Regions from separate parts of the Homo sapiens genome. Here region 1 is linked to region 2. Evidence: fine-mapped expression QTL. A gene starts in region 2. The other region holds a variant in brackets. All regions are shown on one strand. Distances are between the middles of the regions. Region 1 overlaps CHURC1-FNTB (CHURC1-FNTB readthrough). Region 2 holds the start of CHURC1 (churchill domain containing 1).

What was found.
Region 1: its variant is fine-mapped to the expression of CHURC1 in whole blood (INTERVAL, PIP above 0.99).

What each region holds. Positions count from the first base shown.
Region 1 is chr14:64,927,383-64,942,097 of GRCh38, reverse strand. All of the region lies in intron 3 of CHURC1-FNTB (CHURC1-FNTB readthrough), which reads right to left. It overlaps CHURC1 (churchill domain containing 1), which reads right to left. Exons shown (of 4, transcript NM_001386928.1): 4 at 6,730-9,960. The coding sequence ends at 9,868. It overlaps GPX2 (glutathione peroxidase 2), which reads left to right. Exons shown (of 2, transcript NM_002083.4): 2 at 2,260-2,940. The coding sequence ends at 2,610. Among named protein-coding and RNA genes, the nearest start is that of GPX2, 8.0 kb to the left of the region's middle. RefSeq lists an enhancer at 13,024-13,093. The variant G/T (reference allele first, on the strand shown) is at 7,121.
Region 2 is chr14:64,906,967-64,924,525 of GRCh38, reverse strand. CHURC1 (churchill domain containing 1) reads right to left here and starts at 10,071. Exons shown (of 4, transcript NM_001386928.1): 1 at 9,992-10,071; 2 at 400-535. The coding sequence starts at 10,030. CHURC1-FNTB (CHURC1-FNTB readthrough) reads right to left here and starts at 10,165. Exons shown (of 14, transcript NM_001202559.1): 1 at 9,992-10,165; 2 at 400-535. The coding sequence starts at 10,111. It also overlaps the pseudogene RPPH1-2P. RefSeq lists enhancers at 9,802-10,071, 10,222-10,271.

The sequences.
Region 1 (14,715 bases), 19 kb before region 2:
ATTTAATGGCTCTGTGCCCTCGGAAAGGGCGCTTCATTTTTCGGTTTAGTTTCCTCATCTGTAAATTGGGGATAATACCACTTAGCTCATAGGATTATTATGATGTTTAGGGGACAGGATATACAAAAGTAACTTGAAAAATATAAAGTACTATGCAAATGCAAGCAAACTGTTATTTAGATTGAGGATGATTTTTGTTGGTTTAAATTAGCCAAGTGGAAAGAAAATAAGCAGGAAAGAGAAAGGTTTTCAAAAGGCACGTGCCTCTGGGCATTACATGCACCTATTTCTGATTAATGGGTCAAGCTGTTATAGATCTTCAGCCCACACACCTCGAGTTCTCTTTTAGGGATTCTTCTATTTCCACCTATGATTTTAACGTACAAGCAGGGAGAATGAACCCAAGCGAACCCTCTCGTTATAATCCCCTTAGTTCAATTCACAGTGGTATGAAGGTGAGGAAGACAGGAAAGCAGGAAGGCTGAAGCATCACTGGCTGTGACAAACCTGAGCCCAAACTGTTCACTGCTCTCACTGTTCTTCCCTAAGTTTTCTGTCTGGCCTTTTCTAGAGCAGGAGAGACAGAAGTAGCAAACCCTCTTTCGAGATGTCCCTCCAGCCCCAGAAGTACCTCCAGCCTCACACCATCTCTTCAGCCTAGCAAGTTGCTGGAGGGAGTCTATAACCTACCAGGAGCCAGCCAGCCATTTGTATCAAGAAATAGAAATCTGCCAGGGTACAGTGGCTCACACCTATAATCCCAGCGCTTTGGGAGGCTAAGGTAGGCAGATTGCTTGAGCTCAGGAGTTCAAGATTAGCCTGAGCAACATGGTGAAACCTTGTTTCTACAAAAAATTGCAAAAATTAGCCAGGCATGGTGGCATGTGCCTGTAGTCACAGCTACTTGGGACGCTGAAGTAGCAGGATCGCCTGAGCCTGGGAAGTCGAGGCTGCAGTGAGCTATGATTGTGCCACCGCACCCCAGCCTAGGTGACAGAGTGAGGCCCTGTCTCAGGAAAAAAAACAGAAACAAAAACAGAGAAGTCCACTAGAGATCAGCTCTGGGCTCATGATGTCATGATGGCCTGGAACTGACTGAACTAGTTAGTTCTCACAGGTCAGAAGCAGGAACTTTCTCCCAGAGGAAGGTATCTGTCTGTTAAATTGGAAAGGTAGAGGTGGAAAAGAAGGGTTCCCATAGGCCTTTTGGATTGTCATGAATGGTGATGCTGAGAGGGAATAGGACAGGGATGGCAGTGGGGAGGGAAAGGCAGGGACCAGGTTTTGAGCCAAAGCATGCGTAGCTGAGAGCAGTGAGTGGATAGGAGGTGCAGCAGTCTTTGGGTAGCAGCCTACTCAAGAAAAGAATGATAATTACATACTCACAATCTTTAGCCATCAAGCACTTATTTCCTCAACTCCCCCTCCCCCTGGCCTATTGCCAAACCCTAAATCCTGTATCCTATTTACTTCATGCCTGTTGGTTACTAAGTAGTTCCATTTAGAGTACACATTCATTGTTGCCTTGAACTTGCTCTGCTGTTATGGCACCTGAAAACTAGATGTTCTTGGATGGGGGTCTTCCTTCATCAAAGCTTCTTCCCATTTGTACTTCAGTTCTAGGACAAGGCAAGAAGAAAGCAAGAAGCTGTAAATCCCATTCCTCTGGGTCTCAATTTCACCCTCAGTTCAAGGAGCTGAGTAGGCAGAGGCAAAGGCTATACTCAACACACGTGCAATTGAAAGCAGGCGAGGCAAAACCAGGGCAGAGGAAAGGAAAGGGGTGTGTGTGTAGGTATGGATTTATGGGTAGGTGGGTCGGTAGGTTAGTTGAAGAGGAGGTTCTAAGCAGTATAACCTAAGCCTCTTTTCTCTTTCTTCTGCTTCAAACACCTTAAGAACTGCTCAGGGTAGACTGGAGACAAAAGCAACAGCTCAGAAGTGCTAAATCTTGAAGAGCAGCCAAAGCATGGGCAACAAAGTGAGACCCCATCTCTACAAAAAAAAAAAAAAATTAGCCGGGCATGGTGGCCTGTGTCTGTAGTCTCAGCTACTAAAGAGGCTGAAGCAGGAGGAATGCTTGAGCCCAGAAGTTCAAGGCTGCAGTGAGCAACACCTCGTCTGTCTTGTCTCTCTCTCTTTCACAGTGAAAAAGAATGACCCTGGGGAGGGAGTGTAGGAGGGTGAAAGAGTTTCATGTTGTGGATCTTTCTCTTCCCCCACCCACTGTCCACGCACTTTGTCTTTTTCCTCCCCTAGGAGAACTGTCAGAATGAGGAGATCCTGAACAGTCTCAAGTATGTCCGTCCTGGGGGTGGATACCAGCCCACCTTCACCCTTGTCCAAAAATGTGAGGTGAATGGGCAGAACGAGCATCCTGTCTTCGCCTACCTGAAGGACAAGCTCCCCTACCCTTATGATGACCCATTTTCCCTCATGACCGATCCCAAGCTCATCATTTGGAGCCCTGTGCGCCGCTCAGATGTGGCCTGGAACTTTGAGAAGTTCCTCATAGGGCCGGAGGGAGAGCCCTTCCGACGCTACAGCCGCACCTTCCCAACCATCAACATTGAGCCTGACATCAAGCGCCTCCTTAAAGTTGCCATATAGATGTGAACTGCTCAACACACAGATCTCCTACTCCATCCAGTCCTGAGGAGCCTTAGGATGCAGCATGCCTTCAGGAGACACTGCTGGACCTCAGCATTCCCTTGATATCAGTCCCCTTCACTGCAGAGCCTTGCCTTTCCCCTCTGCCTGTTTCCTTTTCCTCTCCCAACCCTCTGGTTGGTGATTCAACTTGGGCTCCAAGACTTGGGTAAGCTCTGGGCCTTCACAGAATGATGGCACCTTCCTAAACCCTCATGGGTGGTGTCTGAGAGGCGTGAAGGGCCTGGAGCCACTCTGCTAGAAGAGACCAATAAAGGGCAGGTGTGGAAACGGCCAGCCTGTGTGTGTGTTCTTTGACAGAGGGCGGAGGGAAGCTACAAACTGCAGGTGGGATAGAGGAGCTGCTAGCACACAAAGCTTTGGGAGGGGAGGATCTGACGGATCAAGGGATGCCCTAATTACTGACAGGAAAGCAAGCGCTGGCCAAGGTCTGCAGTGGCAGGTGCAGTTACGGGAAATGTGAATTATATTATTCCTTTACAGCTCTTCTTCAGAACTGGGGAAAAAGAGAAAGTGATAATGGGAGGTAGAGGAGGAAAAGACAATGAGCCCTTTGGTTGGGGATATTGGGAGGCTGTTAGGAGGATTACAGTCAGGAAGCATCAATAGCACTGTGGGTACTGGGCCAACTAGATCTGACTTGTGCCTTGGGAAATTCCTGGGCAGTCAGCTTAGTTAATGTTTACCAATAGCAAGGGCATAGAGGGTGTAGTTACTGAGAACACAAACAGCACTTTATCTTTTTCCTGATCATCAAACATCTCGGGTGTTTGATCCTTTGCTAGACTGATTCTCCCTCCTTTTTAAAGTTCATGGCCCGGGTGTGGTGGCTCACACCTATAATCCCAGCACTTTGAGAGGCCGAGACAGGCGGATCACTTGAGGTCAGGAGTTCGAGACCAGCCTGGCCAACATGATGAAACTCTGTCTGTACTAAAAATACAAAAAATTAGCCAGGTGTGGTGGCGCACGCCTGTAATCCCAGCTACTCAGGAGGCTGAGGTGAGAGACTCATTTGAACCCGGGAGGTGGAGGCTGCAGTGAGCCAAGATGGCGGCGCCACTACACTCCAGCCTGGGCGACAGAGTGAGACTCCGTCTCAAAATAAATAAATAAAGTTCACATTACACCCTCATTCTTCTCAAAATCACATATTCACAAATTCAGGCTCCAGACAAATAGAGGCAGGAATGACTGGACTCATTTCTTCCTCTGTAAGAAGGAAGGGGTTGGGGATGGGAGAGAGCCTCCCTTCAGAGTCAGGCTGTTTATAATCTGCCATTTGCAACATCATTATTCCTCACTGTGAGGACAGTTTTGCTCAGAGGCCTTGCAAGGATGGTGTCCCCAATTCCTCATCCAGTGCAGACATAATCAAAACATATCACCACCGCCAAGGTCAGGTTCTATCATGTTCTGGAAAAGATACCTGCTGAGAGGCCACTGCCTGTCACCTTGCCCCACAGACCTCATCCTGGAAACTTCTCATTTCATCTTCCCTTCTTTGACCACTAGATGGAATATTTTCACTTCTATTCACTGAAACCCTGAAGGGACAGTTTTCCAAACTGGACACACTGCTTGAGAAGCCCAATGCTGAAGGGAAAATGTTTTTCCTTTAATTGTTCTGCTTACCCTAACCATTTTCTAAGCACTTGCATCATATGAGAGTGAATGTGGAATAGATGTTTAGGATCCCCACTTTCTGACCTTCAACTAAACCTGTCAACAACAGTGCTTTATTTCAAAAGGGTAACCTGAGTATTACAGTGGGAATCCCCTGACACCTTTCTGCAGGGCCTTCTGCTAACTTAAGGCTACCCTTACCTTCACTCTTGAAACCTCAAGCCTTTCAGATTCCTGCTCTTAAAGTCAACAGCTGGGGTATGAATTATTATGGGGCAGGACCATGTACTGATTTTAGAGCAGTAACTGCAGACAAATTGCTTTCCTGACAAAATAGAGAATTCTTCTTGGATGCTAGTCATCACCTTGACAGTACCATAGCCTGTTGTTACATCCAGTAACAGAGCCAGCTATCTCGGGTGTTGGAAACATGCCACAGGCAACTTAGAGCCTGAGACACCAGTACAATGTGTTCAGTCTTTCCCTTGAGGCCCAAGTTCAAAGAATTATTTAGGGATTCCCAAAGGAATGGGAATTACAGTATAAGTTATTCTGCAGAAAGTCAAGAGAAGGCCATAAAGCTAGAATGAAGGCTCTTCACTTGGGAGGGGAAACACTATTTGCTTCAGACAGAACCTGATCTATTCAGCTCAGGAGGAAACAGGGAAGGCAAGACTGGAAGATTCTATTTTAAAAGGATGTTTAGGTTTACCAAATATTTAGTTGTGCTGTTGTTAAAATGAAGAGAAATTAGAAAGTGTTTCCTTTCCTTTATTCTTCATCTTGTTTGTCCCCCTTATCATCCTCAGAAGTATTAGCTTGTGATCATAAACAGACAAGGCAAAGCTTTAAAATATCACCCACTTTTCTAGATAAACAAAAATCTTTTAATCAGATTTCCCTAGGGGCACCCAGAAGGAGGGGGAAGTCTCCTTAACAACTCTCCCAGAAGTGCTGAGATAATGCTATTCAACTCAGAGGAGGGACAGAGAGAATCACTAACCTGAGGGCTCTTACAAAAACAAAAAACAAAACAAAAAAACCAGAGCTTGGAACAAGTGATTTTAGGAGGCCAGGGTAAAGACACTGAAATCGATAATTATCTTCATGACTATGTTCCCATAGCTATCTCTCCTTAGTTTATGAGACACTGAGGCCCAGTATGGTGGCTCAAGCCTATAATCCCAACACTTTGGGAAGTTGAGGCGGGAAGATGGCCTGAGCCCAGGAGCTCACTATGTAGCCTGGGCTACACAGTGAGACCTCGTCTCTACAAAAAATTAAAAAAAAAAAAAAAAAATCGGCTGAGCATGGTGATGTACACCTGTAATGGTTTCAGCTACTCAGGCAGCTAGGGTGGGAGAATTGCTTGCGCCTGGGAGTTCGAGGCTGCAGTGAGCTATGATTGCACCACTGCACTCCAGCCTGGATGAGACCTTGTCTCAAAAACACTGAGTCAAACTCTAGAACTTTATTATAATCACCATCACAACCATCATCCAAACTACCATTCATTTAATATTTACTATGGGCACAGACTGGGCTAGGTACTTTATATACACTAGGTTATTTAACCCTCATAGAGATCCCATGAAAAATTGTTATTTCTATTAAAAGAAAAGGTAATTGGGCAAGACACTTGCCAAGGACACACAGCTTAGGAAGCAGCAAAGCTGAAAGTTAAAGCCAGGTCAGTCTGACTCCAAAGCCTCTACTCTTAACCATAACACAACAGTGCTTTCTTCTAGCTCAGATTTTTCTTCATAAAGACCACTGACAGCTGCCTGCACACAGCATTAGATTTAAAAATCATTAGATTTAAAAATTCTGTGGAGGCATGATGGTTTCTAGTTTTCCACTGAAGACACTGAGGTACAGACAGGATAAGTGACTTGCTCAGTGTCCCATCATTAGCAGGTGACAAAGCTAATTCTAGACCCAGATCTTTTAATTCCTTTTCTATCCAACTATACTGTATCTTACAACAGTCTTGTACTACAGTAAAAAAAAAACATACATTTTTAAATTGAGCGCCTCAAATAACTAGCCCTGCTCACAACATGAAAGAATGAAACCGAAAGGACTTTTGATACACTGAAATAAAGGACAGTGAACATAAACCTCTTCATGGTAACTTACAAATAACAAGCCATATCTGGTTGTGCCCAAGCTATCTGATGTCAATTAAATTAGTACTGGGAGAACCTAAAACCATGTGAGAAAGAGCTAGATCAAACAAAACAACAAATAGTGGCTGAGCTTTTAACTTCAGGAGCCTAACTAGCCAGACCTGTACATCACAGAATGATTAGAGAAAAAGGAGGTGCCAAGATAAGCCCACGTTTCCAATTATCCCCATGTTTCCAATTATCCCCACAGGTGATTTCTCTTCCTTCTTATATCTCAGGAAGGAAAGTAAAAAGAAGAGCCATGTTTTGCCTAATTCCTTTTTTTTTATTTTATTATTATTATACTTTAAGTTTTAGGGTACATGTGCACGATGTGCAGGTTAGTTACATACGTATACATGTGCCATGCTGGTGTGCTGCACCCACTAACTCGTCATTTAGCATCAGGTATATCTCCTAATGCTATCCCTCACCCCTCCCCTCACCCCACAACAGTCCCTAGAGTGTGATGTTCCCCTTCCTGTCTCCATGTGTTCTCATTGTTCAATTCCTATCTATGAGTGAGAACATGTGGTGTTTGGTTTTTTGTCCTTGCGATAGTTTACTGAGAATGAAGATTTCCAATTTCATCCATGTCCCTAATTCCTAATTTGAACAGAAAAATAAGGATTCTGTGAAACTGGGTTCAAGTGGTC[G/T]TTATTAGATCCACATAAGAATCTAGAAAATGATAAAATATCACAAAACACAGCACAATGTGGGTTCACCAATAATGAAATATAGAGAGAGGATCTTATGTTTTAAATTTTTGTAACATATAGTCCAAAACAAATAGATAATTATACATTCTGCAATAGATGAGGACATTGGCAGGGCATATAAAATTAGACTCTTGGGCTTCAAATGACTAAGTTGGAAGCATTAGCAAACTCAAGGAAGGGACAATTCAGAGGCTATAATGGGCTTAATGCTGCTATTTAAAGTAATGAAGCATTTTCTCTGCTTTCTGGATTCATTTCACCAAACGATTTCCTCAGCAGGTCAGATATAGATTTGCAGCAAAATGAAAAACATTTTCCAGGAATAAAACAACTGATCCCTGCAACAGCTGACTTAACTTTTCTGAATAATAAATCTTCATCTGACATGCCCAGATGCCTCAGAGTACTGTCACTGATATTCTTAACCTCTTCCTAACCTTGCCAGATCCTTGTATTTCATATTTGCCAAACATAATTACTGAGAGGGGGTAACTGCACTAGCTGTGTGATCTTAAACAAGTTATTTAACTTCTTTTTTTGTTGTTGTTTTGTTTTGTTTTTGTTTTTGAGATGGAGTCTTGCTCTGTCTCCCAGGCTGGAGTGCAGTGGCATGACCTTGGCTCATCACAACCTCCCTGTCGCGGGTTCAAGCGATTCTCCTGTTCAGCCTCCCATGTTGCTGGGACTGCAGGTGCATACCACCACCCCTGGCTAATTTTTGTTTTTGTATTTTTAGTAAAGACGAGGTTGCACCATGTTGGCCCGGCTGGTCTCAAACTCCTGACCTCAGGTGATCCGCCTGCTTTGGCCTCCCAAAGTGCTGGGATTACAGGGGTGAGCCACCGCACCCGGCAAGTTATTTAACTTCTTTGTGCCTGAGTTTTTTTGGCTCTAAAAGTGCTACACTGAAATAAAGAATAGTGAATATAAACCTTTTCATGATAACTTACAAATAACAAGCCATATCTGGTTATGGCTAAACTATCAATAGCACCTACCTTATGAATTTGTTAATGAGGATTAAATAAGTGCTTAAAAAGCTCTTAGCATGTAGTAAGTACTTAATAAAGCTCAGATATTATCATCATTACTGTTATTCAACAAAGCTTTTCCCTAGTATCTACAATGAACACTTTGCTCATTTCTTGTTCTTATAAGACCTTAGTTCAGAATTTCCAAATCTCCTAGATATGAAGAAACACTTTTGTTTCTAATGCCTGACCCTTTAAATTTAGGTCTCAGAATGAGCACTAATTGAAGCCACCTCATTGTTTCTAGTACTTTACATGCTTTCTAAAGTATCTTACATTCACTAATTCATTTAAATCTCCTAACAATACTGTGATGAATGTATTATATCAATTTTTGTTAGTCCAATTTGATAGAAACAGGACAATAAAGTCCAGAGTAATGCTTTGCTTAATGACTATACTGCTACTAAATGGCAGAGAGGCCTAAATGCCAGTTTATAACCTCCTGGCCAGTGCTCATGAAACTATGCAAAGTAAGATATTCTAAAATCCCTTTAAAGCCAATGAAACCATTTTCTCATTTATATTAACTGAAGTCCACACTGTATTCAGATTTCCCTAGTTTCTACCAAATGACCTTTTTTTCTTTTCGTGGTATATAATTCCATGTAGGATACCACATTACATCTAGCAGTCATGTCTTCTCAGGCTCCTCTTGGCTGTGACCATGTCTCAGATTTTCCTTGTTTTTTATGGCCTTGATAGTTTTGAGAAGTACTGGTTAGGTATTTTAAAGAATGCTTCTCAATTGGAATTTGTGTGATGTTTTTCTCCTGATCAGACTTGGGTTCTGAGTTCTGGGGAGGAGGACCACAGAGGTAAAGTGCCATTCTTATCACATTCTGTATGATGTGATGCTATCAAGGATACATGCTATCAAAAGGGCTTATCATGGATGATGTTAACCTCAATCACCTGGCTGAGCTGGTGTCTGTCAGATTTCTCCACTGTAAAGTTACTCTTTTCCCCCCTTTCCATATTATACTCTGCAAGGAAGTCACTATGCAGAGCCCACTAAGTGGGGAGTATCTACATAAATTATTTGAAATTCTTCTGCACAAGAGATTTGTTCCCATTCAATCATTTATATTAGTTTGGGCTTGTAAATATTTATTATATAGTTTGGGTTATAACCCAATACTACTTTATTTTGTTACTCAAATTGCTCCAGCTGTGGCCTTTCAGAGATCCTTCAGTTCGATCATGCTGACATACTCCCAATCACTATGATTTTTTTTTTTTAATTTCAGTACTTCATTTTTCTGTGGCACAAGATACTCTAGGCTCATCTTGTACAGTTCATATCCCAGTTCTAGAATCAGTTCATTTTCTAAGGAGTCCTGGTTCCTTTTATTGGAAACCAAAATCTGGGCACCAGGTGTGCTCCCATTCTAGTTGTTTTCTGACCACATAACTGCTAACAAAGATGCTTCACTCTGGCTACACTGATGTGAACTTTGAACTTTAGCAGAAGAGCTCAGCTCTAGAGAACAATGAGCTCCTACATTACCTTTTTTCCTCAAAGAATAAGTAAGTCTAAGCAGAAAAAAAATATGCAAAGAATTTTCAGTATGAATGAAATAAGACAAACCATCAGGCTTGCTGTATTGTAAACCAACACAATATAGTTATAACAGATCTGTAGAAGGATCCTTAGAATAAGAGAGTCATTTGTCGGGGGTCATCAGGGAGAATACTGATAGTATCTTCGGCTTTGCCGCATAACAGACACAGCATGGTATACTCCTAGAACAAGATAAAGTGCATAATTACCTAGAGGAACAGGGAAAAAGATGCTTTATAACTTACTCTAGTTAAGATGTTCTCTACAAATTGTCATGAATATTCTTTCTGTACATTGGATCAATTTCTTCAACATGTATCAGCAATGTCTTAGGCTTATTCTGTATATTCCAGAGCCTGTTGTTTATATAAATTGATACATAAATGTCATCTTGGAAATACATGGCTATTTCTCAGAAAGCACATATATTTAGCTTAGTGCTATTTAAAGTAATGAAGCAATTTGAGTGTGGGTCCCTATGGACAAATTCCTATTCTTACAGCTGTTCCTTTCTAGCATATTTAACACTAATACACAACAGAAACAATTTTTTGAAAGGAGAAAATTCCCAAACTGAAAAAGCTATTTTTATCTACCCTAGGAAAATAAACAATTATGTTAAATTCACTAGTATGTCCTGCCTCATTTTCAGATGGCTAGTTGTCTGGGAATTTGATCCATTTAAGAAGTTTGTTTCCCAGGCTTAATAAATGCCCAGATTGGTAATAGAGGAGATTTTGTTTTAGGCAAAAACCCTTAGGGCAAGGTCCTTTTTCTTTTTTTTTTTAGACACGGTATCACTGTGTTGCCCAGATTGGAGTGCAGTGGTGCAATGATGGTTCACTGCAGCCTTGACCTCCTGTGCTCAAGTGATCATCCCACCTCAGACCCCCAAGTAATTGAGATTACAAGCACTCGGCATCACGCCTGGCTAATTTTTAAATTTTTTGTAGAGATGGGGTCTCACTATGTTGCCCAGGGTGGCCTCAAACTCCTATGCTCAAGTGATCCTCCCACCTTGGCCTCCCAAAGTGACAGGATTACAGGTGTGAGCCACTGCATCCAGCCCAAAGTCCTATTCTTATAGCTTTCCCTTTCTAGAATATTTAACAGTCATAAACTACAGAGACATATTTCTTTGAAACCTTTCATTTAAAAGCCTTTTTCTCTGTACAAAAACAAACATCTATGTTAAGTCTTCTAGAATTTCCACACCTGATGCTAAGTTTGCTAGCTGTCTGGAAATTGATCAGTCAAGGCAGTTTGTGTTTCTTAGGTTTAGACAGTCACTAGAGAGGGCCACAGAGGTAAACAATGACTGTGGTACAAAGAAATAGAAGCAGGCAACTGCCTTTTCCATCTTCTACTGGTGAGTTCAGGAGGGGAGCTTAGTTGTGGCAGTGGAAAGATGGCTTTATGAATTAAAAATAAAATAAAAATACATCCTCTTCAAGGTCTTTTACTGTTCTCAAATACTTCCACTGCTTCAACCCACCAGGCATTGCTATTTGGATGGCAACCTTTTACAGGAAAAGAAGAAGGAAAAAAGTAAAGAGTCAAAAAGAGAAAATGTGTGAGGCTAAACAAATACTTGAGTTTTCAACCAATCTAGCCATTGACAAATTTATACTGAGTGCCTACATGCTCTGCAATGTGCTGGCAGACATGAAAGAACAAAGTCTGACTTTATACAATCTGCAATCTAACTTGGGAGGGGGAAAAAACCTAACATATAATCTGGCAAGACTATTAAATCAGTGAGACTGATTACACCTGTAATCTTTATAGGCAGTCTGGAACCCAAATTTCATTGCAAGTCAATTATTTGGAATTCAAAAGCAATTTCCCACAGAAGTAATGTCATACATGGCGGTTAGGTTCCCAGGAAAATCCACAAGTCTTTTAAATTTATATTGTTCAAGCACCATAGAATCTAACCATATATAGAAGTGCTTCTGTGGGAAAATATGTCTAGAATTCTAACTTGGGATGCCAGGAACAGATCTCCTCGTGCTGCCAGGAATATGATGAGATTAGGACACCTTTTATCAAAACCAGCCAAGTACAGAAAATAATTCCCCCAGTCATTCACAGGGACTCTCAAAGGCTCCAACTGGGCAGGGCCTAGGGGAAAATATTTGGAGGGAAGAGCAGAGTGGGCGGAATTACCTCTGAGTAAGACCAGATCTTTTTTTTTTTTTTATTCTGAGGGCTTTACTTTTTTCTCTATTAGCTTTACTCTCTTCCTCTATTAGTCCCTGTTAATTCTGACTCCAAGTCTTCTCCTTCCCTGGCCCACAGAGGAATAGAAAGCAGTCTCATAGTTTCTGTCTTGTTTCTTGAAGTAAACACACAATTTTGGTGTGTGTGTGGGGGGGGGCTTTTGCTAGGAGGGTTTTTTTTTTAAATAAAGGATACCTATAATAATTTATCATGTATTTTCCATGTAAACTCTGTCCCTCTGTCTCCACTTTCTCCCTAGTCTTGCCATCAGAAAATCCTACTTTGTTTAATAATGGCATTATGGTTGTTTTAAAAACAGAATACTTATCTTTCAGAGAGACTAATGAAGTATTTAAAGAGGTAGTGATACGTTTGGAATTTGCTTTGAAATAATCCTATGGGGGGATATGAGAATGGTGAAATATAAATAAAGCAACTTGAAGATGGGTAGTGTACATTAGTACACTATTCTGCCTACTTTGGACTATGTTTAAATCTCCTATAAGATGTTTAATATAAAACAACAATGGTGGCTGGGAATCCCACCTTGAACTTGAACTACTGCCAGGATAGGATGAGGGGCTGGGGTAGGGTGGGGACAAGGACAGTAAGTAATGGCAGCTGAGAATGGAGGGTTCTTGTGGCCATTAGGCTGAGGTAGAAGTTCCCAGGTGGCTATTCACTAGAGTCAGGGCCTGACATAGGTACAAGAAAAGTTCAGAAAAGGGAGAAGATGCATAGGCTTGAAGAGCAAAGAGGAGATGGAATTTGAGTTCAGGCAGAAAGAGGTAAGATTTAGTTGGCTTGAAGGTAGAGAGAGGGAATATTCAAATCAAGGAAAAGGCATGAATATGGACAGCAATATGGAAAAGAGCATGCGCATCGCTTACGGAGTAAAAGGGAAAGGAAGCTACATTTGGTTTGTCAGCAGGGGAGTGGAGGATGACATGTTTAAGAAGATTAACTTGATGGCAGTGTGCAGAACTGCAGTCTGGGGAATGCTGCAGTAATTCAGCCTTCAATGGTTATGGTCCTTGACATGAGGTGTGGTGCCAGAGTCAGAGAAAAGGCAAGCAAAACAAAGAAAAAAAAGAGGGGATGAGGGGTGTAGGCACGAAGGCTAGAGAAGGAAATGAGAAAGGTATCTAATAGGTCTCTACTGAGACTGAGTACATGTGTGTTCACTACAAGAGAGAGCATAAAGAAGGTTCCAGACCACAGAACAAAAGCTGAGGAGTATCACTTCGAGAAAACAGGAAAGAAAACTAAGAGAAAACACAAAGGAGCAGTTAAAATGATTTAAAAAGGAAAGAAGTCAAGCACTTTGGACCTCAAGGGCAGAAATGCTTCAAAAAGACAACAATAGTTAATAAAACTAGATGCAGAAGCCATGTAAGAGAGAAAAGAACTAAGGCAGTCACAGGATGTGGTTAGATTATAGGAAACGTATGAGAGAATAGTTTTAGCACAGAGAAAATGAAAATCACTTTGTAGGTACTTAAGAGGAGTATAGGAAAATAAGGAAAATAGGGTAAAGACCCATTCAAGTGGCCAGGTAATGGCTCACACCTGTAATCCCAGCACTTTGGGAGGCTGAGGCAGGAGGACTGTTTGAGCCCAGGGGTTCAAGACCAGCCTGGGCAACCAAGTGAGATCTCATCTCTACAAAAAAAATTTTTTAAATAGCCATGCACAGAGGCTAGTGCCTGTAGTCTCAGCTACTCGAGGGGTTGAGGCAGAAGGATCGCCTGAGCACGGGAGGTCAAGGCTGCAGGGAGCTGTGATCAGGCCACTGCACTCCATCTTGGGCGGCAGAGTAAGACCTTGTTGCAACAAACAAACAACCTGTTCAACTAAAGAAGCAAGAGGAAGAAGAAATGATTACAGGATGAATCAAAGTACACTGGAAAGAAAGACGATAACATGAGATTCCTGAGGAAATGCAGTAGGGGTAGCATTAGAGAGGGGTAAATAAAAATCTTTCTCTCTAACAGGAGAGAAGGAAGAGTAAAGTTGGGACAATGCTAAGTATGGTGTACATATGAAAGAGTAGCAGGAAATAAAAGAAGGGAAGCTGGGCCAGTCCAGTGAGAACCTTGAAATGAGGAGCTTGGATATTGTACTGTAGCTAAAGGTGCACTATGGGAAGGCCAATGAGGTCACCCAAAAGTATTTATTTTTACTTTTTAGTAGAGACAGGGTCTCACTATGTTGCCCAGACTGTACTCAAACACTTGGACTCAAGAGATTCTCCTGCCTCAGTCTCCTGAGTAGCTCGAACTATAGGCACACACCACTGTGCCCAGCTTTGAAAACATTATTTTAAGAAAATTAATATGATGGTAGAGTATGGAGTATGAATTGACGGCGGGGGGGGGGGTGGGGGGAGAAGTAGACTGGGAGTAGAGAGTCTAGTTTAAGAATCATTTTCACCACCATTTCATAGTTTCTTGCATCGTGACTACAAGCCACCTTCCTTTACCTTCTTCCTGTCCCAGAGTAATTTCCAGGGCAGCTTTGAAAACGGCTGCATTCAGTCAAAAAGGAAAAATCAGCTAGACTTTGGTCTAGCTAATTTACAATGGCTTGGTTAGGACATAAACAGGCAACCTCAATATCCGTTCAGGAGCTGTACATAACTCACGTGAAATTCAGGAGTGTCTTGAAAATAGCTATAAGCACTCCTTTCCTCCCATAAAAGAATAGGACTGTTT
Region 2 (17,559 bases):
TTAATAGCTGTTGGAGGATATCATGGTATTATACTGTAGCAGAAAAGTGAAAACTCACATGGATGACCCTAAGGTCACAATAATAACAATAATAAAAAGTATATCTTGTTAAGGCAGCATAAAGCTTTTAAAAATATGTCCGTGAAAAATAATTTGATAAACAAAAAAAATTCAGTTCCTGAATCGTAAGCTTTAGTTATCTGCAAAAGTCATTTACATAGACTATTTGATATCCCAGATAAATGAGGTGTTAATGACATTTTCCTCTTAAAGACCTAACTAGTAATTATGTGCGCAATACAATATTGAAATAGGCCTCAGAATATTTTGTGTAACATATCGACTTCCAAAAGCTGACACCTGCTAACACACTCAGGTTAAAAAATAAAGTCTACTTACGATCATAGGTAACTATTTCTTCTCCATCTTCTTCTTTCAAGGATTTGTTTGTGATCAGCATAAAATCCCGCTTACTGCACACTGCACAGCCTGTAAAGTTCAGTAAGAAAGATCCATTCTCCAGGCAGGTATTACCCTAAAATATCAGAAACAGGAATTTAATTTCTTTACATTTCAAAATCTTTAGTGAAGATGATTAACAGACTTAAAATGTCTAAAGGCAAAACAAAACTAAAAAATGGCCAGCATTTACTTCTAGGTCATATACCAAATAATTTTTGAAATTACTAGCTTTCCTAAAGAAGTGTTACTCATGTTAAAAAAAAAAAAAAAAAAAAAGCAACTAAAGTGCAGTGTTAGATCCTTAAGTCTGTAAGGACTGCCACTATGTTGAAAAGGGAGGATAAACTGAAAATAGATATTTAGAAACAACTTAAGGAAACCTTAATATAAAATATGAAAATAGAAAATTAGAAAAATTTAATAACCAACAATATTAAACGAGGCTTACCAACTAAAATTAAATTCAATCAAAATAGAAACTGAGTCAATGATAAAGATGATCTTACATAGATGTTTAGTTGTTTGTTCAAATAGTTTTGATCCTTGATCATAATACAAAATAAACAAAAGTAAACTCTCAGCTCTATAGATGTCAGTCCTTAAGGATACACATGATTGAGGCAGAGAAGCTTAAGTTCTTCATTTCGTAAGACTGACACAATGGCATTTAAGAGAGAATGGGTTTTACATCTTTACTAAGAAACTATACAAATTTTCAAAAAAAGTTTTTAAAAAAGAAATTCTAAATAACTTATGCTCCTGGCTCAAAGGAAGCCTTTTTTTTTTTTTTGGTAATTGAGATGGGGTCTTGCTATGTTGCCCAGGCTGGTCTCAAACTCCTGGGCTCAAATGATCTTCCCACCTCAGCCTCCCAAGTATTGGGATTACAGTTGTGAGCCACCGTCCCCGACCCAAAGGAAGTCTTTGCTAAAGGCTAATAATTAATAATTAAAAGTCACTTTATAAATAATCTAGTCCAATCCCATTTCTCAGCAACACACTTAAAGAGTATTTTTAAATAATGTGATTAAAAATCACTCAAATCAACGTTTCTCCAGTGCATCTGTGTCTGATATTGTGCAAAGCACAACAGAGGATTCAAAGATGAGCCAAACATGTTGCTACCTTCAAGGAGTTTTAAGAAGCATCAGCGAAATTAAGATCCACCATAAATAATGCCACTAGGAAGTCTTTCTGGATTCCAAGCACCAGAATTAATCTCTCCCTTCTATGTATTGAGGAAGAGATTAATTCTGGTGGGAGAATTAATCTCTCCCTTCTATATATTGAGGAATCTCTCCCTTCTATGTATTGAGGAAGACATTAATTCTAGTGGGAGAAATCAAGACATTACTACATAGTTATTAAATCATAGGTGTACTGCCTTAACTACTAAAAGGGAAAAGGGCCTTAGGATTAAAGTATACATTTCCAGTTATTAAGAACAAATGCTTTGCTTTGATTTTTTTTTTTTTTTTTTTTTTTTGAGACGGAGTCTCGCTCTGTCACCCAGGCTGAAGTGCAGTGGCACACTCTCGGCTCACTGCAAGCTCCACCTCCCAGGTTCATGCCATTCTCCTGCTTCAGCTTCCCAAGTAGCTGGGACTACAGGTGCCCGCCACCACGCCCTGCTAATTTTTCGTATTTTTAGTAGAGATGGGGTTTCACTATGCTAGCCAGGATGGTCTCGATCTCCTGACCTCGTGATCTGCCCGTCTCGGCCTCCCAAAGTGCTGGGATTACAGGAATGAGCCACTGTGCCCAGCCTTTGATTTTTTTTTTAATAAAATCTACTGAGGTACAATTTACATACAATAAAATTCACACACTGTAAGGGTATACATAGGTGAATGACTTTTAACCAATGTATATACCCATGTAACCACTACCCTAGTGAAGGTATAAAACATTTCTATCCACCCCAAAAAGTTCCTTCATGCTTTTCAGTCTATCTCTAACCTCCATCCCACCCCAGACACCCACTGATCTGATTTCCATCTCCAGTCTTGCACGTTCTAGAATTTTATATAAACAGAATCAGTATACTCCCGCATCCAATTTTCCTTGCTCGATATAATGCCTATGTTCATCATCACTGTTGTTCTAGGTACTGGTAGTTTGTTGCTTTTCATTGCCAAATAGTATTCCCTGTAGGATTCAGCTGTTGGTAGATATTTGGGTTGTTTCCATTTGGGGCTATTATGAATAAAGCAGCTATAGAGATTCATGTGCAAGTCTTGGATGGATACATGTCTTCCTTTCCCTTGGGTAAATATGTAGAAGTGGAATTGCTAATATGGTAAAAATATGGTATATTTAACTTTACAAGAAACTGCCAAATGGTTTTCCAATTTACATTCCTGCCAGCAATGTGTGAGTTCCAGTTGCTCTATAGCTACATCAATACTAGGTACTGCTTTTTATTTTTGCCATTCAGTGACGTAAAGTGGTATCTCATTGTAGTTTTAACTTTTGTTTCCTTGATGACTAATGATGTTGAGCATCTTTTCATGGTGCTTATTCATGTATCTTCTTTTATGAAATGTCCATTCAAGTCTTTTGCCCATTTTCAAAAAGTTAGGTTGTTTATTTTGAGTTGTAAGAGTTCTTTATATATCTTAGATACAAGTTTTTTCCCAAATATATTTTCTCCGTCATTGATTTGCCTTTTTTGATGGTTTCTTCTAATGAGCAAACAAGTTTTGATTTTCATAAAGTCCAATTTAACATTTTTTCTTTTATAATTTATACTTTTTTTCTCCTAAGACATCTCTGCCTACCCCAGGGTTGCACAAAGTTTCTTACATTTTTTTCTAGAAGTTTTATAGCTTTTAGTTTGTAGATTTAGGTTTATAATCCATTTTGAAATAATTTTATATATGAGGTAAGGATCAAGGTTTATTTAGTTGCGTATGGATTTCCAGTTGTTTTGGCAAGATTTGTTGAAGAACTGTCTTTCCCCCCACTGAATTACAATGGTGCTTTTGTAGAAAAAAGTCAATGACCATATATATGTGGGTCTGCTTTGACTATTCTGTTCCCTTGATACATATATCTACCTTCCCACTAATATCAAACTCTCTTGATTACTATAGTTTTTATAGTTAGTCTTTAAATCAGGTAGTTTATGTCCTATAATCTGGCTATTCTTGGTTCTTTTCAGTTTCATGTAAATTTTAACATGAGCTTACACACTTTACAAAAAAGTCTACTGGAGTTTGAATTGGGACTGCCTGGAATCTATAAAATCTGACTGCCAAGGACTCCAAAAAATTAAGGAAAACAAAACAGTTTTTAAAAAGATCTAAATGCCAATTTCAAATAAATATAACTCTGAACTGGACTGCATCCACAGACACAGGTTCCTTGCACAACGTGGCCTAGCCTCTGTAATCTGACCATGAAAGTAGGCTGAATGTGAGTCTAAGAAAACACTGAAGGAAGAGAAGTATCTATGTATCTGTTGTCTGGTAAGTAAATGCTTCAAATGGCAAAATACAAGTACAGTATATAAGAAGCGGATGGGACTTTCTTTAAGAGCCCTGGTCATTTGAAAGCAGCAAGAGTAACCTTCATCAGTGAGGCACAGTTCTTTTATTAGATGAGGCAAGACTATTAACATCCAAATTTGGGAAAGTAAACTAAAGCACACATTATTCAGGGAAGGTTTTCAGGCTCCCATAATAGGTGGAAAAGAATGCAATTCAAATCAATTCCACAATAATAACAGTAGACCATAACAGCTTAAAGAAGGAAAAAAGTCGACATGTTTAGTACCCTTAGAAAATCTGATTCAGATAAATCCTGGTTAAGGATTTGTAAAGGTATACAAGTGTGCAAGAAGAAATGGCTGAAAACTGTAAGAATAATTAATATGAGAGTATGTTATAAAATCTTACGAGAAAGCTGTAATTATTCTGATAAAGACTGGATCAATTTTTTTTCCAGCAAATTATTTCAGATGATACAAGTTAATAGCTAATGTATATATTTTGCCAGGGAATGTTTAAAAATGGAAAATACGGTTTTTCTTAAAGAACCAATTTTTTGTTTCATTGATTTTCTCTACTGTATTCTCTCAGTATTTTCTACTCTGATCCTTATTATTTCCTTCCTTCTGCTTGCTCTGGGTTTAGTTTGCTCTTTTTTTTCCATTGTCTTTTTCTTTTTTTTTCTTTTTGAGACATGGTCTCACTCTGTCACCCAGGCTGGAATGCTGTGGCGCAATCTTGGCTCACTGCAACCTCCGCCTCCTGGGTTCAAGTGATTGTCTCACTTCAGCCTCCCAAGTAGGTGGGACTACAGGCACACAAAACCATGCCAGGCTAATTTTTGCATTGTTTGGTAGAAACAGGGTTTCACCATGTTGGCCAGGCTGGTCTCAAACTCCTGACCTCCAGTGATCTGCTAGCCTCGGCCTCCGAAGGTCCTGGGATTACAGGCGTGAGCCACCATACCTGGCCCATTTTTCCATTGTCTTAAGTGGAAGGTTAGGTAATTGATTGAAAAGTATACTTTTTAAATATAGGCACTTATAACTATAAATTTTAAGATGCAGAGTATCATTTTAAGGCACTCTTACATACAACTGTTTTGCTAATTATATATTACTCAGCATTTAATTAAATCTGGTTCAATGTTATCTACTAAGCAACAACTTGAATATATGAAGTTTGGTAGCTTAGCTTTAAATGACAAATACAAAACAAGTAATTTTAAACATATCACTAACATTGATTTTTTCCCACTGATTCATAATGTATTTCTGTATTCCTGTTGCATTACTAACAAAATTTCAAGCTGAAATTAAAATATATGAAATGTTTCATTTCCAGTTTGATATGAAAAATATTTGATTACAATTTTGTGCCTGTTCAGTAATTTTAGAAAATGTAGTAGAGTTCTAGTTCTGACTGGTTTGCTAAATGCTTTTCTGAAGGAAAAAAAAAATGTGGTTCACCATTGAGTTAAAAAACATTTGGGTTCAGAAAATTAGTATGGTTCATTCCAACTTGACTCATGTTTGAATTCAAATTCTCAGTGTTAACAGTATAAGCAAGTAGGCCAGAGCCCCATTAAGAATTCAGTACTATATATTTCTAGTCTGTAAAAATAAATGACAAAACTCCAAACAACTTTATGTAATCGAAGATAAATAATTAACTATTACTTACTCATTCTACACTTAGAGCTTCCCAACAAATGATTTTTTGTTTGTTTGTTTTTTTAAGTAGACAGGGTTTTGCTCTGTTGCTCAGGCTGGAGTGCAGTGGTGTGATCTTAGCTCACTGGAGCCTCGAACTCCTGGGTTGAGGGAATCCTCCTGCCTTAGCCTCTTCCCAAGTAGGTGGAACTATAGGCACACACCACCACGCCTGGCTAATGTTTTTTAATTTTTAATAAGGATGGGGTCTCACTATGTAGCCCAGGCTGGTCTCAAACTCCTGGGTTCAAGCCATCCTTGTGCCTCGGCTTCCCAAAGTGTTAGGATTACACGTGTGAGCCACTAGGCCCGGCCCACCATCTTCTTATTACCCTTCCCTTTGCTAAGCTTCTGCAAAGCTGAGCAAAGCAGTGGGCTTCTGCTCTTACTGCACTTAAAAATAGGTCATGACTTCAAAGAACCCCAGAGTTGGAAGGATCCTTGACATTCCAAATGGTCAGTTAGTCTCTACTGAACAATAGGAAGAGAGCTTAATTCCTTTAAGAGTTACTCATTCCATTTTGAAATGTCAGAATGTTCTTTATTCTGATTCAAAGTCTAAGACCCGTAACATCCACCCACTAATTATTTCTAAATCTGCCTTCTAAAATTCCAAAGAAAAGTTTAATTCTTCTTCATGACAGTCTTTTAATTATTTTAGAACAGAATAAAATCAGAGAAAAGTGCCTTTGAAAGGCACTCTCCTGGTTTTCCAATCACCTCGATCCCTTTTTCTACTATTCTTCCTTATACTTTATTTTCATTTCTGAAGTTAATTTAGTCTTTGGAGCTCAGTCCTTGATTCTCTACATTTTTTTCCTCAGAGAACAAATCCTATTTTGACACTTGTATTTGACTGACTCATCTATCTACATAGTTGTACCCAAACTGCAGTCTTATATCTTCACTTGACCCTTCGGATATTCTCAACCTCAGGTGAAGCATGATATTAATAACAATTTGACCATTTGTCCCCAATTTTGTTTTTTCTTCCCATATGCCTCCAATTTCTGTAATGATACTTCCAACATCCCAGTTGCCTAGATTGAAAATCCTGAGATCATGTGATCATGTATAGGTCTCCCCTTATTCACTTCTACATTAAACAGGTTGAATCTTGTTAATTCTTTTTTTTTTCAACAGGGTCTCGCTCTGTTGCCCAGGCTGGAGTGCAATGGCACGATCATGGCTCACTGCAACCTCCCACCTCAACCTCCAAGTAGCTAGGACTACAGGTGCATGCCACCACGCTTGGCTAATATTTGTGGTGGTTTTTTTTTGTTTGTTTATTTGTTTTGAGACGGAGTTTTGCTCTTGTCACCCATGGTGGAGAGCAGTGGTGTGATCTCGGCTCACTGCAACCTCTGCCTCCCAGGTTCAAGCGATTCTACCGCCTCAGCCTCCCAAGTAGCTGGGATTACAGGCGCCTCCCACCACACCCAGCTAATTTTTGTATTTTTAGTAGAGACGGGGTTTCGCCATGTTGGCCAAGCTGGTCTCGAACTCCTGACCTCAGGTGATCTGCCAGCCTTGGCCTCCCAAAGTGCTGGGATTATAGGCGTGAGCCACCGTGCCCAGACTATTTGTATTTTTTGTAGAGACAGGGTTTTGCCATGTTTGAGACTGGTCTCAAACTCCTGGGCTCAAGTGATCCACCTGCCTTGGCCTCCCAAAGTGCTGGGATTACAGGTGTGAGAACCGTGCCCAACCTAATTCTTTCTTTGAAATAAGGTCTTCATTATCTCATGCCTACACCACTGTTGCCATGGCTCCTCAAATGCCCTGTGGAGTTCTGTCTTTACACACCCTCTACCCCACCATTTCAACATTCAGCCATAAGATTCATTTTCCTAAATAACAGATTTCAGAATCATTTCTCTATTAAAATTTTGATGGTGGCCCAATGCCTAAAATGTAAACTCTAAACTTCTCAATATGACTTTTAAGTTTTACAATAACTCCACTCTTAAGAATCCAACCTAAGGCCCGGCGCGGTGGCTCACGCCTGTAATCCTAGCACTTTGGGAGGCCGAGGCAGGTGGATCACGAGGTCAGGAGATCGAGACCATCCTGGCTAACAAGGCGAAACCCTGTCTCTACTAAAAATACAAAAAAATTAGCTGGGCATGGTGGTGGGCACCTGCAGTCCGAGCTACTCGGGAGGCTGAGGCAGGAGAATGGCATGAACCAGTGAGGCGGAGCTTGCAGTGAGCCGAGATCATGCCACTGCACTCCAACCTGGGCGACAGAGCAAGACTCCATCTCAAAAACAAAAACAACAACAAAAAAGAATCCAACCTAATCTCTTTAATATTCTCTACTGCAAACTCCTCCCTCATGGTCTCATAATAGCTCATGTTTATTACTGGTTTCATAAAAATCTTTTTAAACTTTAAAAAAATGAAATAGTACATAGTAAAGTACATGAAACATAAATGTAGCGAACAAGAAATGATTATAAAGTGTACATCTGTAGAACCACCACCCAAATCAAGAAATAAAACACTGCTTGCACCCGGGAAGACTTTTTCTCATGTGACCCTTCTTGATCACACCCTAATCCCTTAGGAGTAACCACTATCTCGACTTAACAGTAATTGTATACGTTCCTTACAGTTTTACCACCCAGGTACATCCTTGAATAATATATTTTGGTTTGCCTCTTTTTGAATTATACTTTATGTGTTCTTTCATCAACACTATTTGTAAGACTTTTCAGGCTGCTGTGTAATTCTAGTTTGGTTTCACGGCTATAATTCAGGGTTTCTCTACCTCCACACTATTGACATTGGGAGTGATACTTTGTTGTGGTGGCTGTCCCATGTATTGCTGGATGTTTAGCGGCATCCCTTGCATCACCCATTAGCAGTCAGTAGTACTTCCCCTTTTGACACCCAAAAAATGTCTCTGGATATTGCCAAATGTCTCCTAAGAGCCAAAAATCACTCCTGGTAGAGAACTACTGCTCTAATTCATTCACTTCCATTCCTCATTCATTAATGGTGTTCCATTCTAATGAATGTATCAGTTACTTTTCCAATCTACTACAAAAATAATGCTGTTATGAACACTTATTTATAAAAGTCTTCAGAAGCATATACACATGCATTTTTCTAGAATGGGAATCACTGGGTCATGTCTGTATTTTATAAGGCTCACCCGCTTTTTCAAAGTAGTTGTACTACAGGAGAATTCATACTGTTATACATGCTACTCAAAAGCCTAAGTATTACCCATAAGATACTAAGACATAAGGAACTACAGAGACTTTCTCCCTCCTTCCCAACCAATGCACAAATTCCATTTCTGTAATTTTCCCCCATCCTCCAGCTCCTCACCTTCTTTTCTACCCTAATTACAACTGTCCTTCAAGTCTTAGATGATGTCCACCTTTTCTCAGGGGAGAACAGCACTATCCCCTATTGCCCTCCCCTTTCCCTAAACTTGAATAGCATTTCTGAACTGAGCTACTCATTTTTTGTTAGTCACATACTCCCCAAAACTGTAAGCTGTTAGGCAGCACCAAAGGTGCCTTTTAATTTCTTCTCTGAAACAAATAATCCAGCTGGACGTGGTGGCTCATGCCAGTAATCCCAGCACTTTCGGAGGCCAAGGCGGGAGGATCACTTGATCCCAGGAATTTGAGACCAGCCTGGGCAACAGCAGCACCCTGTCTCAAAGAGAGGAGAAATAATCCCTTTCTGGCCTAGCAAAGTAATCTAACTACACATATATAAATGTTCAACAAGGATGCCTTGAATGAATGAGAATAGACAAGCTTTGCAAACTCCTGAACCTGAAAGTAACTGAGATTCAGAAGGCGGTAACAGGCAGGAAACCTAAATTCTAGTCCTGGCTCTCATCCATGCAACTAGAATGTGAACTTGGGCAAGTGATTTCCCCTCTCTGGGCATCGGTTTCTTCATCTGCAAAAGTGTTAGAACAGATGACCACAGAGGTCCCCTCCAGCGCTAGAATTCGGTAAGAAAATTGTACTTCATCAAATCGAGCTTGAGGATGAGACCGGAAGTGGGGGTGGGGGAGTCCCTCGGTTGTCGACGGGGGTTGTGGTGGTGGTGGGGTTCCTCTGTTGCTCCTTGGAGCTCAAGAGAACGGCCACTACAACTGAGGTCAGCCGCCAGGGCGGGTACCAGAGGTGCAGACCGCCACAGGCCATCCCTGGTGTGCCTAAATACCGCTACTGGGTCACCGGGACCGGCAGTGCGGCCGAGTCCGCCCCACGTACGGCCTCTCTGGGAAGGCCAGCCTTGGATATGAGACACCTCGGGGGCCGCCCGCGGGCCAAGGGAGCGCCCAGTCGCTCACCCGGTTGGGATATTCCTTCTCCACACAGTCGCCACACATCGCGACGCAGTCAACAGGGAATGTCCTCCAACGCTTCCGGGAAGACGAAACCTCGCGAGAACTGAGATACGGTTGCCGCATGCGCCCAAGTACTCGACTCCTGGGTATTCCGTCTCGGGAACCGAGCCGAAGTCTCCGCCCCTTAGCAACTGTTGTCAAGGCAGGGCACAGTCTCCTTGGCACCGTGCGTGGGCAAAGGGTGGGGCTTCAGAAACCTTTGGAGACAGACGAAGAAATCTTGTGCGCTAACAGATGTGACGGGAAGGGAAAGGGATCTTGGGCTGAGCGAAGTTCTCACAGACACCTTCCTGAGCTTAGGCTGACAAGAAAGGCAAATCACGACACACAAGAAAGGGAATTATTTCTCGCTACCGCATATACAAATCTGAAATGTTAATGAATACATTTCTGTACCATTTCTTAAGGCAATGAGAGTGAATAAGAGACCAGATCTCAGCAGGTGAATAAACAGTAACCGAAGTGTTTGGGAAGAGACACTCAGAGTGCTGCAGAAAATCTCCTAAAAAAACACTTAAAATATTAGTAATAATTGGTCATTCCAGAGTCCTCTGGAGGACATAGCAACGAGGAACGTATTTCTATCTCTCTCAGGTGTCACAGAAGCACCTCAGTGGCGGGCAAGCACTATGTAAATAGAAAAATGGCCAGGTCATCAGCCATCCCATTACTGGGTATATACCCAAAGGATTATAAATCATGCTGCTATAAAGACACATGCACATGTATGTTTATTGTGGCACTATTCAGAATACCAAAGACTTGGAACCAATGCAAATGTCCATCAATGATAGACTGGATTAAGAAAATGTGGCACATATATACCATGGAATACTATGCAGCCATAAAAAAGGATGAGTTCATGTCCTTTGTAGGGACACGGATGAAGCTGGAAACCGTCATTCTGAGCAAACTATCGCAAGGACAGAAAACCAAACACCGCATGTTCTCACTCATAGGTGGGAATTGAACAATGAGAACACTTGGACACAGGGTGGGGAACACCACACACCGGGGCCTGTCGTGGGGTGGGGGGAGGGGGGAGGGATAGCATTAGGAGATATACTTAATGTAAATGACGAGTTAATGTGTGCAGCACACCAACATGGCATATCTATACATAGGTAACAAATCTGCACGTTGTGCACATGTACCCTAGAACTTAAAGTATATTAAAAATAAATAGATTTCAAAAATTATCTAATTGAATTGACTGCAGATATTTTGATTTCAGATTTGCACATCCATTTATAAATGACCTATTGGTTCACAGATTAAAAAACCAATAAACATATGTGCTTCCAAGAAAAGAAAGAAAGAAAGAAAAATGGCCAGGTCAGTTGTTCCTGCATCATTTCCCAATCCTGTGGGTCTCAAAATGCTTGTGCTTGTTGCCCCGCCTCATCCTTTCTCTCTGTATTGAAAGCATCTTATTTATTCGCAACGACCTAATTAACTTGCAGACGAATCTCCGAAGTTTGTCTCTGTTTCTGAACAATGCGTCTTTATCACACTCCTCTACCCCAATGGGAACATCAACATCCTCCCTCAGCCCTGCTTTATTGCTGTCATGTCAGGGAAGAAAGATTGGGGAGCCTGGGAGACTCTGGGATCCAGATTCCTTAAAGAAGAGATTAATAACCATTTCAAAGCACACCAGTTTAAATGGGTTTGCTAATATGGGAATTATTTTTCCACGGAAGCACTGAAGTTGTAACCTTTAGTATTTCAACTTCTAGTAAGTATCTGCAACTGTTATTAAAAATCATAGGTGTGCTAAGAAACACTGCAAGAACTAGAGCCATCAGAGTTTACCTTATTCTTAGAATAATTATAATACCTCCCATTTGTATGACATTTTCAACCTTTCAAAAGTGTCCTCATTTCAGTTTCTAATTTTATGCTATTACAATCCTATGTGGTTGGTAAGAAAAATATGTCTCCTCTTTTCAGATAAGGAAACCACAGAAGTGAGTGGTTAAAGGTCTTGTCTATGGTAACAAAGCTACTCAGTAGTCAGCCAGGGCTAGGACTCTGTTGCTATCCTTATCTCAATTTCTTTCTAATACAGTAGCACTAGCCACTTATGGCTATAAAGCACTTTAAATATGGCAAGTTGAACTGAGATTGTGCTGTGAGTACATTCTGCACACCAGATTTGGAAGATTTAGTATTAAAATATATAAGAATCTCATTAATAAATTTATATGATTACGTTGAAATAATTTTTGACGTACTGGGTTAAATAAAAATGTATTATTAAATTAATTTCACCTGCTTTTTTAATGTGACTACTAGAAAATTAAAAATTACACATGTAGCTCTCATATTCCTATTGGACAGGGCTAGTCTTTTTTTCTTCTCTCTCTCTCTTTTAAGGCAGTCTCACTGTGTCACCTCGGCTGGAGTGCACTGGCATAGTCTCGGCTCACTGCAACCTCTGCCTCCCAGGTTCAAGCGATTCTCATGCCTCAGCCTCCCAAGTAGCTGGGACTACCGGGGCACACCACCACAACCGGCTAATTTTTTGTAGTTTTAGTAGAGATGAGGTTTCACCATGTTGGCCAGGGTGGTCTCGAACTCCTGGTCTCAAGTGATCCACCTGCCTCGGCCTTCCAAAGTGCTGGGATTACAGGTGTGAGCCACTGCACCTGGCCCAATTCTTTCTCTTCATCCATTTTTAAATGGTTTCTCTGTTTTTAAAGCCTAATACTGACTTTTAATCCTTTGCTACTCCCCAGCTACAATTTAGTCTGAGAGATAAAATGAGCACAAATACTAATAATTACTGGCAGATTGGGGTATAAGAACACAAAATGATGAGACTACACCCAGGGGGAGGATTAGGAAAGAGGAATTTGGGCCTTAAAGCATGTTTAGAATTTCAAAAAGCAGAGTTTTGTTTTGTTTTGTATAGAAATTTCAGGTGAACCATGCCAAGGAGTTTGGATTTTATTCTGCATGTGGTAGGGAGCAACTGAAGGTTTGAGCAGGAGAGTGTTGCCAGAGTTGTGGTTTAAAATTATTTTAGGCTGGGTGTGGTGGCTCACACCTGTAATCCCAGCACTTTTGGGACGCCAAGGCAGGAGGGTAGCTTGAAGCCAGGAGTTCAAGACCAGCTTGGGCAACATAGTGATGACCTCAAAAAATTTTTAAATTAGCCTAGTGTGGTGGTGTGCACCTGCAGTCCTAGCTACTCAGGAGGCTGAGATGGGAAGATCTCTTGAGCCTAGGAGTTTGAGGCTGTAATGAGCTATGATCATGCTGCTTGCACCCCCGCCTGGGCAACAGAGTGAGACTCTGTCCCTAAAAAATAAATAAATAAAAAAGATTATTTTAGCTGCATTTTATTGGGACTTACTGGAACTGGGAAAAAAATGGACATGCCAAAGGCAGACGTTAGCAGGAACCACAAGGGGGAGATGTATAGCTTTCTGCCTCATCACTGAGAATATACACAACAAAAATAAATTAATTAAAAATTACACTAAAGTCATAGATCTTAAAGAGTACACCCATTAGCATGAATTGATTTCATATTCTAAGGCATGAAAGACAATCTACATATTTATGAAATTTTTTTACCTTCCCAGAGTTATATCATAACTTGTTATTAAAATGAGCAAGATAAAAAAAAAAAAAGGTCGGCCGGGTATGGTGGCTCATGCTTGTAATCCCAGCACTTTGGGAGGCTGAGGCGGGTGGATCATGATGTCAGGAGATCGAGACCCTCCTGGCTAACATGGTGAAACCCTGTCTCCACTAAAAATACAAAAATTAGCTGGGCATGGTGGCGCATGCCTGTAATCCCAGCTACTCAGGAGGCTGAGGCAGGAGCAACGCTTGAACCTGGGAGTCAGAGGTTGCAGTGAGCCGAGATCGTGCCATTGCACTCCAGCCTGGGCGACAGAGCTAGACTCCATCTCAAAAAAAAAAAAAAAAAGTTGTCATATTTATGGTCACAAAAGCTCAAGAGCTCAGGGCTATCTATCCAATGAAGTCCTCCATTTAAATCTAGCCACATTCAGAGAAGAGAGGCAGGAAATGAGACTTGGGGGAAGAGGTAGCCAGGACCAGAAATTAAAGTGTGACTGTGGTAATGGGAATATAAAAGTATCTGAGGTTGACAGATGGGAGAAAGGAAAATAGAGGCTACAAAGCAGAAGATTAGCACCTGAATGAAATGAACAAGTAGTGATGTAACATAAGAAAAACAATAAACAGAAAAATATTTTCTCTTATAGGTAACTATATAAAATAAAATTTGCAAAATCAATTTTATCTTCTAATAGAATTTTCTCTGGGGAAATACCCTGCCCCTATGGGTCTCTAATAAATATGTGATGTCCATGAGATATATCAAACAAACCATGTTGCAGTTTACGTATGAGATCACCTCTTGTAAAAGGAATTGATTAAAGAAAATCTAAATGTTAAAATGGCCCTAATTGCTGGCTCAGTTACATGTGCTAAACTACATCCCTGTGGTAAGATGAAAATTTTCCCTAAAGAGTGCAGTTTGACTCTCCTTTTAACACCTTCTTTCTATTTTTTCTTTTGTCTTATGCTGTCTTAAGCCAAGAGTCTGAAGTGATGACACAATGCTGATCATATCTATTATTTTCATCTTTTGTTGAAAGGAGCAAATAAGTGCCCCAGCCTTTATGGTAGTATCCTCAGACCCATTTCACAGATGGAGTAGAGGAAGCTCATCTGCTTGGTGAAGGTATAGGTCATTCTTTCCATTGTTTCAGGGAAAGTGTGAAATAAGAGTCTGTGGTTGTCATCACCTGATGTCACCTGCCTGATATGAATGAATTAGCAGCATTTCTGGGTTAACCCAGTGAATACAGGTGAGCCTGGCTGAGGACAGGTACAAAAGCACTCCTAGAAGTTCAGGGTCAGCAGGTTTTTTTCTTAGCTCAATGGGAGAGTTAGACTTTCTTCCCTTTAGGGTTCTCCTGCCCAACTTCAGGCTACTTCCCCTATTCAGATGATAAACTCAAGCCTTTCAAGCACATTTATTTATTTTTTGCTTTTTAAAACTTTATTTCAACATAACTATGCTTACAGAAGTACAGTCATATTGGCTAATAGAATGCAATTTAAGTTTAAACTTACCCTGTACAATTTGAATAAGAAACTTGGTACGTGGTTTAGGATTTTAAAAATGATTTGCAGTCTGGTTTATTTTTTATCTATTACAAATGTATAAAAGACCCTCCATCAAATTCTGCTAAAGAAGGCAGCAGAAACTTGAGAAAATTACCTTTGGTTTGTCTTAGAAAAAAAACAGGCATTGCACTGCTTAAGTTTATAAAATTGGTGCAAAAAAAAATTGTAATGCTTCAATGCCAATTTAGAAAGTTCAGTTACCAATGGATATGGAAATGGGTGTGAAGGAGCCTATATACACATGTGAAACTGTAAATATCTGATTTAGGTAATATTGCCTGTAGATTATAAATCTACACACACCAAGATTCATATAATTTCTCCAATCTGAATTAACACTATCTGTTCACTTCATCTGCTGAGGTCAATCAGGGAACTGGACACAGTAGTTGTTTTTCTGATGTATGCAAAAAAGAAAATGGAATTGTTTCGTTTGCTTTTCAGTCCAGAAGTCAGTATACTATGGGCAAGGTGTTCCTTCCGTTGTCAACATTCGTAGAGTGACAAACAATGAGGTCTACTTGGGTTTTAATTTGTATCAGCACTCATATCCAAAGCAGTCTCCAAAGTTAATGAACACATGACTTTAGAAGTGACTCCAAAAAATAAAATGGCCCTGCTTAGAAGATTAGAGCAAAACATTCAGCAATATTTATAAGAAGCCTTATCAAAAAATGCAGCCCCTTGTGAATTACACCTCAGTATTAAAAAGTAGCCCCCAAATAAGAAGTAGCTCTGAAAAACAAAGAGGAAAAAATGTAACTTAAAATATCTTAAAAACCAGCAGGGTGCAGTGGCTCACGCCTGTAATCCCAGCACTTTGGGAAGCGCCAAGGTGGGTGGATCACGAGGTCATGAGATTGAGACCATCCTGGCTAACACGGTGAAACCCCATCTCTACTAAAAAAAAAAAAAAAAAAAAAACTTAGCCGGGCGTGGTGGCGAGCGCCTGTAGTCCCAGCTACTCAAGAGGCTGAGGCAGGAGAATGGCGTGAACCCGGGAGGCCGACCCTGGAGTGAGCGGAGATCACGCCACTGCACTCCAGCCTGGGCGACAGTGCGAGACTTCGGTCTCAAAATAAATAAATAAATAAATAAATAAAAATCTTAAAAACCAATGTGAATATAGGTTCAAAAGATGATAGTTAAAAGAGATTCATTTTCTTAAGACTACCTAGGATTAAGACTTATAATGTATTCTAGTATTTCAAGTTTACCGCTAGTTACTAAACATAAATTTACAAATAACATATCCATTTTTTCAAACATATAACACTTAAAAGCAAGGGAATAGCCATTATTTCCCTCTGATTCTGTTTTTTTTGCTCTCCTCACTTTTTTTCAAATACAGATTATCATTTCCATATAAAGTTTTCACCAGGTATGTCGAAATCTCTTAAATGGTAGCTTCTGGGGAAATATTCTCTCTCAAATCTTGCATGGATTGGGGTGGATTTTTTAATATTTTATGTATGTATGTATGTATATAGAGATGAGTCTCACTGTGTTGTCCAGGCTGGTCTCGAACTCCTGGGCTCAAGCAACCCTCCTGCCTCAGCCTCCCACAGTGTTGGGATTACAGGCATGAGTCACCACAACTAGCCAGAAGGAATTTAATAATCAAAATGCAATTGGGTTTCAGATATTTTATTGTGGGTTTTTTCCCCCGCAATGTGTGCCTCAAGGACATAGTAAGACTTAGAGCAGACTTTTATTCTCTTTCACCTATATGGACTCTGAGAGGTAAAGGAGTTTGGAATTTTTAGAGAAACCGGGGAAGTGAGGAAAGGGAAGTCAAGAGACTTCTGTTTTGTCCTGGAGAATGGCTAGCAGATGGAGGGTTTACTTCAAGGTAACCCAGGCACAAAATCCATAGAAATCAAAAAACTTGGGTAGTGTTGAAAAGAGTAGTTTTGACTTGGAATAGAGAAGGGGTATATAGAAGCTGCAAGGAATATTTGGAAAATAACATGGTGATTTACAGTTAAAACATTAGATTTTAGTCCTCATTGTAACTTAATAATTCAAGGACCCTAAACAAGTTGCTTATTGGCTGGTCTTCAATTTTCTCATCTGTAAAATAATGACAATAATAAATATACCTACCTCATTGGCTTGCTTTATAAAATGATACACAAATGTTTTCGGTATATGTGTTTCTACATATGACTTAAGGGTTTTAAGAAAAGTAACTCTGGCCTTAAGCCTGAGGTGGTAGAAGGGAGGATAATAAATTAAGGAAGAGGACTGGCAATAACTCAAACTGCCCGATGTGTGAATGTGTGTCTGCTGAAGTGGATAATATGAGACTGTGTACTTTAACAAATTTGTACAAG